2 linked regions of the Homo sapiens genome follow. The protein of the gene in region 2 interacts with the protein of the main gene of each other region in a pairwise test. Each region holds a gene or a part of one and is shown on either strand. Other genes may lie near its edges. The genes, in order: ECT2 and C2orf42.

Region 1 (3,818 bases), on a different chromosome or scaffold from region 2:
GTCAGGAGTTCGAGGCCAGCCTGGCCAACATGGTGAAACCTCATCTCTACTAAAAATACAAAAATTAGCTAGGCGTGGTGGTACATGCCTGTAATCCCAGCTACTCAGGAGGCTGAGGCAGGAGAATCTCTTGAACCCAGGAGGTGGAGGTTGCAGTGAGCCTAGATCCTGCCACCACACTCCCACGCCACCACACTCCAGCCTGGCGACCAAGCAAGACTCCGTCTCAAAAAAAAAATCTATACACATATCTATAGATATATATACATCTTTTTAATGTATAAAAGCTTAAAATCTGTTTTCTTACTGTTAATATGGTTAGAATACTTTAACATTATATATAGAAGCACCTAATAGCAAGTTTTTCAACAGGAAAAGGAATGTATGACATAAAATAGAAATAGGTGACAAAGAACCATAATATATATTTCCAGCACATCAATTTTACTCAATGATAAACAATTTTAAATGCTTTTATATGAAAACAATTATGTACTATGGAGTTCTGAGTGCTTTTTTTTGGAGATGGAGACTCACTCTGTCCCCCAGGCTGGAGTGCAGTGGTGCCATCTCGGCTCACTGCAACGTCCACTTCCCGGGTTCAAGTGATTCTCCTGCCTCAGTCTCCTGAGTAGCTGGGATTACAGGCGCACACCACCACACCCTGCTGATTTTTGTATTTTTAGTAGAGATGGGGTTTCACCATGTTGGTCAGGCTGGTCTCGAACTCCTGAACTCGTGATCTGCCCTCCTCAACCTCCCAAAGTGCTGGGATTACAGGCGTGGGCCACCGCGCCCAGCCCCTGAGTGCTTTTTAAAAAAAACAGAATCTCAAAAAATTTCCCACTTGTCAAACATTATTTTAGGCTACACTCACCAGACCCAGAAGCCTCTGCCATTACAGAATATACTTCAGTGGGAAAAAATTGAGATGCACTGATCTAATTTAATTATTCTGTGTCTAGACAATGACCTACAAACTGGGGAATCTATTTTACAGAGCACCTAAAATATCAGTATAGTTGTCACATCTGTTTACTTCGGTGGTTCATTTTGTTCTCTTGTCTCCTAAAATGCATATTCAAGTTTCAGTCCTTTATGTTCTCCTCTTACCATCCCATGCTATTGTCCATTATGATTATAAAACTAGTACATTCTCAGATCTAATCATGATCTCCCTCTCAAGCTGGTTCAACTTTTCCAAATGCTTACTGGATAGTTCTGCCTTAATGTAACTTGGATTTCTCTAAAACTTCACTACCTCCCTCCAAAATATAAATTTCCTATCCATGCCAAGGCAACATTTCTTTCATTTAAATTAGTAATTTGCCTTCATCTCTTTTTATTTCCTCCCTATTGCTTTATTCTACCAATATTTCTCCAGTGCTTCTTACTTTTCTTTCCAACCACCACATACTCTGGTTCAGCACCTTATTATTTCATGGCCGAAGCGATTGTAATAGATTACATCATGGTCTGACTGTCTCCAAACTGCCTTCCTTCTAATCATTCTTCAGAACAACTCTCTATGAATTATCTATTCAATCAATTTCTCTGCTGCTCAAGGAGTTTCTAAAATTCCTTGTTGATGACAATATACAGTTCAGATATTACAGTCTTATTTGAAAGTGACCTAATATTAGGCCTCAATTAACATTTTTAACTTTTATTCCTCCACATTCCAAGCAAACTGATCTATCCATTATTCTCTAAAAACTCAGTTTGTATGCTATTATCTGTATATTTGCTCCTCTTTATATTCTCAAATTCATTTCAAATTTCTGGGCCAACCTTGAATTCACTTTCAGTTCTTCCCTTAAGTATTTAGTGAATACCCACTTTATACTAGGGTCTGAGGATAAACACAGAATAAGACAGACAAGGTTCATTTTCTCTTAAAGATTACTTATTTGAAGCAAATCAAATAATAAAGAAGTAAACAAGTACTGTAATTTCTATCGTAAGAACTACTACTAAAAACAACTACCAGGTCACAGGATTGGCAGAAAGGAGTGGAGGGATTTAACTTTACAGACAATCCACGCAGATTTCCTTGAGGCAGAGAAAGTAACAAAGTCCTGAGGTATGGATGTACTAAAAATATTTGAAGAATAACAAAGATGGTATGACTGAAGCTTAGAGAGTACAGGCATTATTAGAGAGCATAATACCACATGAGATTAGGCAGATGAGGGCAAGATTACATAGGGACTTAAAAGCTACAGTAATAGAAAGCCATTAAGTGATTTTAAAGCAGAGGAGTGGCATCATCTAATTTATATATTTTTAAAGATTTTTCTAAGTGTTGCATATAGAAAGGCACAAATTAAAAGGGAGAGACTATTTAGGAGACTACTGCAATCATCTAAGAGAGATCCTTTTTACAGAAAAGACTGATGAAGAGGAGCAAAGGAACAGAGGAATTAAGAGTGGCAGAATCCAAAGGTCTAATTTGGTTATCTTAGGTTTAAGATATCTATTAGACATGGACAAGGAAGTACAAAGTAGGTAGCTTGACAGGGAAGAGGACAAATTTGGGAGTCATCAGCATACAAATGCTTTTCAAAACCATAGATTTTACTACGATAATTTAGGGAGAGTACAATAGAGAAGAAACAATGACTCAGGAGGAACATACAACATTTAGAATTGAAAAAAAGAAGTTAGGCCAAGGAGAATGAGAAATGAGTAAGTAATATCACAGAAGCAAAGAAAAAAAATTGTGTCCATAAAGGAGTAGCTATTCATGTGTTGAATGCATAAAAACTGTCTCCCCAACAAGGACTGCAGATCAGTTGGAATGCGTTGAAAGGACAACGAGAATCAAGGAAATGAGACAATAGATCAAAGTAATTCTTTTAAGTATGCTGATGTGAAAGCAAACAGAAAAATGGGACAATAAGTGAAAAGTGTCATGAGGTCCGGAGGAGATTTTGATTTTTTTTGTTTCTTAAATCTAGAAAACACATTTGTTTACAGACTAAAAATCAAAAAGAAAGGGAAATACTGATAACCAAGGAAGAATTATAGGAGCCTTTCTGTATCAGTTCAGCACAAAGTGAACTCACCCTCCTCTGACTTCATTCTACCTATTTTCTCCATAATTTATGTGACCTCCCCTGTGACTTTGTTTGCTTTTTGAACAGCACTATCACTCTCTAGTTATATGACCCTGGAGAAATTACTTAACTTCTCTGTATCTCAGTTTAGTCATCTGTAAAACAGGAATAATAAAATCTATTATAAACACACAAAACGTATAAAGCATTTAGCATGTAGTAAGCAGTCATTAAATTGCAACATTATTAAGCTTAACTATTCATGTGTCTTTTCTCTACAGCTAGAACAAAGGTAATTAAAGGCAAAGACTTCCATATTCACTATATCAGGGATTTATCTAAATTCTAACAATTATTCCATTCCACTAAACTTTAAAGACAAGTTTTTAAGAATGTGAATTACCTCCATAGTTAATGCTAGACTCTGGTGTGTTGGAGATATCTAGGAGTGACCCTATGGAAAGGGAATGCTCAGCTGATGGGCGCTTACGGGGTGGAAATGGTGACACGTCTGTCTCTCTTGAAAGCTGAGCAAGTGTTTCTTTTAAACGACGTCGTTTGCGATTGCTGTTAGGGGTATTTAGAGAAAGCATTGACACTGATTTCTTGAGCTCAGGAGTATTTGCCTGTAATCAAAAGCACACAAGCTCAATTTACTTCCATGGTTCTTTACTGAGACAGGAACAAGAGAAAAATATATTTACAAGTCTGACAGAATCTGGATTTTGCACAATAATTTTATAACCCTACACTCTACCA
Region 2 (4,312 bases):
GTTCCATTTCTCTTTTTTTATTTTATTTATTTATTTTTTAGACGGAGTCGCTCTGTCGCCAGGCTGGAGTGCAGTGGCGCGATCTCAGCTCACTGCAACCTCAGCCTCCCAGGTTCAAGCGATTCTCCTGCCTTAGTGCCCCGAGTAGCTGGGACTACCCGCACGCGCTACCACGCCCAGCTAACTTTTTTTTTTTGTATTAGTAGAGAGACAGGGTTTCACCATGTTGGCCAGGATGGTCTCGATCTCTTGACCTTGTGATCCGCCCGCCTCGGCCTCCCAAAGTGCTGGGATTACAGCCGTGAGCCACGACGCCCGGCCGGAACGTTCCACTTCTCTTATAAATAGTTGACTAAGGTTTCCCAATAGTAAATTAACCTGCTACCACTAGTAAGTAGCCAGACTAGGGTCAGGAGAGCAGAAAACCTCATTCCAGGGTTTTCCAACACAGTGGCCTCACCATGAACACATTGCACTCGGGAGCTATCTTCAATCATGAACGATGAGCATTTAGATTTATTCCGTGATTCCAAGGACCAGAACTAAGATATACAGGAAGCTCTTTTTTATCTCATTTTAAGAGAAAACGTTCAAGTGTAGTTCAAAGTGTACTTAAGGGAGAAAAAGTTAACTTGTCATAAACATACATGTGATAGAGGTGAATACTCAGGTGGGCAAGAACCTCCAAACAAACTCCAAATTCGCAGCTGACATCTGCTAATAATGTAGAAAATCTCGGGCGATTTTTTTTTTAATTTTCATTTTTTGTAAGGACAGGGTCTCGCTATGTCGCTCAGGCTGGTCTCGAACTCCTAGCCTCAAGAGATCCTCCGCCTCAGCCTCCCAAAGTGCTGGGATTACAAGCGTGAGCCACCACGTCCAGCAACTCAAGTCATTTTTGCATCAATTACCAGCAAAAGTCTATTCAGAAATAGGACTCTCTCAGGCCAGAAGGGAGTCAAGACGAGCCTTGGAGGTGAGCGCCCAGTAAGATAGGCCAGAAGCACTCCAACTCCAAGGCAGAGCCTGAGCTTTACAGCCGCTAGGTCGGCGTATGTTCTACCACCGCATTCCCCCAGTGTCTCAGCGGTCTCTGAAGGAGAGAACTAAAACTCCCATAAGACAACGCGAGCTCAGGTGGGCGGCCACTTGCCGCGCGTGGGCGGCTCTGACCAATAACGATTGTCGTTACAGCGAACAGTTTGGCCCCGTTTGTAAAAGGCCGCGGCAGGCGAAGAGAGAAGAGGTGAGGGCGGTCGTCAGCTAAGGGCCCCGGGGCTCGCGGGGGGTGCGCAGGGCAGGTAAGGGGGTAGTGCTGAGCAAGGACCGGGGCGGCGGTGGGGCAGGGGTGTAGAGCTCGGGTTCCCAGCGGAAAGCATGTCCAAGGAGCGGCTGCCGGCGAGGTGATGCTTCTGCCTGGGCCTACTTGGGACCGGAAGTGAGCGCTCGCGCGGGGAGGATGCCGGGAAGCAGGTCCCAGGGGATATGTGTGTGTCGCTGCAGACCCATCCCGGAAGCCGGCCGGGAGGTGAGCGTCCCGGAGTCGGGCGGCCGCTCCGTTGACTGCAGGGCCCCGGCGGTCTTCCTCCGCTGTTCCGAGGCCGTTGAGGGCTGATGTGCTCCATCCTCCCACTTGTGGTTTGGCAAGCCATCCAGCCGACTACAAACCCACGTTTGTGAGTTACCTGCTGGCTGTGACGCTTCCGTCAAATCTGAGTAACAGTTTCCTCATCTCTAAGATGGGTAACATAGTATCTACCTCACAGGATCGTGTGGGCAGTACATGCATAGAAAGGATTTAACACGCAGTGTACTCAGCTAGTTTTATTATTTATCCGTAATGATCATTTGTTCTTTTCCCCTAACTGTGCCTCACAAGCATGAAACAGAATCCACCAAACATTTAGGTCTGGGTAGTGGTTGGATGGAAACCCATCGCGGGTTAACGCTTCCAACACCAGTCCCTTGACACTCTCCCGCCGAGGAGGCTGATTTGTAAACTTGCTGAGAAGAGAATACCCAGCAGATCTTTCAGGTTTCAAATCCACGTTCTTTACAAGTTGTGTTAATTGTTTGTATATGCTTTCGATATAGAGTCTCTAGGAAGTAATACTAGTACATGTTTTAAAATTCAAATACTGCCAAACAGTGAGATGTAAGTCTCCCTCCTAACTTCTGTTTCCCAAATCCCATGTCGTTTCTTCTGATGCAATAGACATTGTATGTGTGTGTGTCTAGATAGATACATATGTGTATCTCTCGTCTTTTTTTTTTTCTTTTAAAAGAGTAAAACCAAGAATAGCATATTACAAAGTGCTGCACTTTTTTCACTCCACAGTGTATCTTTTTTTTTTTTTAAGAGACAGGGTCTCACTATGTTGCCCAGGCTGGTCTTGAACTCCTGAGCTCAGTGATCCTCCCGCCTCAGCCTCCCAAAGTGCTGGGATTACAGGCGTGAGCCACCACGTCCAGCTACTCAGGCCATTTTTTTTTTTTTTTTTTTGAGACGGAGTCTCGCTGTCGCCCAGGCTGGAGTGCAGTGGCACGATCTCGGCTCACTGCAGGCTCCACCCCCCAGGGTTCACGCCATTCTCCTGCCTCAGCCTCCCTAGTAGCTGGGACTACAGGCGCCCGCCACCTCGCCCAGCTAATTTTTTGTATTTTTAGTAGAGACAGGGTTTCACTGTGTTAGCCAGGATGGTCTCGATCTCCTGACCTTGTGATCTGCCCGCCTCGGCCTCCCAAAGTGCTGGGATTACAGGCGTGAGCCACCGCGCCCGGCCCATTTTTTTTTTTTTTTTTTTTTTTTTTTGAGATGGAGTTTCTCTCTTGTTCCCCAGGCTGGAGTGCAATGGCACGATCTTGGCTCACCGCAACCTCTGGCTCCCGGGTTCAAGCGATCCTCCTGCCTCAGCCTCCGGAGTAGCTGGGATTACAGGCATACGTCACCACGCCCGGCTAATTTTGTATTTTTAGTAGAGATAGGGTTTCTCCATGTTGTTCAGGCTGGTCAGGAACTCCCGACCTCAGGTGATCCGCCTGCCTCGCCTCCCAAAGTGCTGGGATTACAGGTGTGAGCCACCGTGCCCGGCCATGCCATTTTTTTTTAAACAGCTGTAAAAATATTTTATTTTCTGGGAAGTATTCCATTTTGTAGGCATACCATAATTAATTACACCAGTATCTTCTTGAGGGACATCAGGTTGTTTCTTATATTTTGCTGCTACAAATATTCTTCATTGAGTTGCCTTATAATTTCCCTCATTTCACACATGTGGGAGTCAGTCTGTAAAATAAATTCTTAGTAGTGTAATTGCTGGGTCAGAATATCAAATCAAAATATACTGATTCCAAATATGCAAGGAAGATATCAAACAAGCTCAAATTGAGGGACATTTTGTAAAATATTCGACTCTTCAAAACTGTCAAGATTAGGAAAAAGAAAGACAAACTCACGGACTTGAGGGGACTAAGGAGACGTGATGACTCAATGCAATGTGGTATCTTGGATTTGATCCAGAAACAGAAAAAAGGGGCAAAGTCTAGAGTTCAGTTAATAATAATGTGGCAATGTTGGTCCCTTGGTTTTGACAAATGTCCCATGTTTATATATGATGTTAACATTGGGAAACTGGGTGAGTGGTGTTTGGGAACTGTGTTCTATCTGCCACTTTTCTGAAAATCTAAAATTAGTCTAAAAGATTTATTCTTTTTTAAAAGGGAGATTGAGGCCAGGCATAGCGGCTCACGCCTGTAATCCCAGTACTTTGGGAGGCCGAGACAGGCAGATCACTTGAGGTCAGGAGTTCGAGACCAGCCTGGCCAACATGGAGAAACCCCGTCTCAACTAAAAATACAGAAAAATTAGCCGGGCTTGGTGGTGGACGCCTGTAATCCCAGCTACTCAGGAGGCTGAGGCAGGAGAATTGCTTGAACCCGGGAGGCAGAGGTTGCAGTGAGCCAAGATCACGCCACTGCACTCCAGCCTGGGTGACAGAGCAAGACTCCGTCTCAAAAAAATAAATAAAATAAAAAGGGGCATTAGTGGACAACTGGTAAAATCTGAATAAAGCCTGTAGTAGAGTTAATAGTGTTGTACCAATGTTAAGACCTTATTTTTGACAAATGCCCCATAGTTATGTGAGATGTTAACATTTGGGGAGTCTGTGTGAAAGGTAGGTAGGAAGTCTCTGTACTGTCTTTAGCTTTCCTATAAAAGCCAAAATGCAGTCGGGTATGGTGGCTTATGCCTGTAATCCCAGAGCTTTGGGAGGCCGAGGTGGGTGGATCATCTGAGGTCAGGAGTTCGAGA

Evidence for each region.
Region 1: the proteins of C2orf42 (region 2) and ECT2 interact in a two-hybrid assay, tested with the Homo sapiens proteins (one large-scale study listed by BioGRID).

Annotation. Positions count from the first base shown.
Region 1 is NC_000003.12:172,764,145-172,767,962, reverse strand, and holds part of ECT2 (protein ECT2), read right to left. Parts: intron 3,686-3,818; coding exon 3,463-3,685; intron 1-3,462. UniProt on the Homo sapiens protein: Guanine nucleotide exchange factor (GEF) that catalyzes the exchange of GDP for GTP. Promotes guanine nucleotide exchange on the Rho family members of small GTPases, like RHOA, RHOC, RAC1 and CDC42.
Region 2 is NC_000002.12:70,187,907-70,192,218, reverse strand, and holds the start of C2orf42 (uncharacterized protein C2orf42), read left to right. Parts: upstream 1-1,199; 5' UTR 1,200-1,246; exon of another isoform or gene 1,247-2,035; intron 2,036-4,312.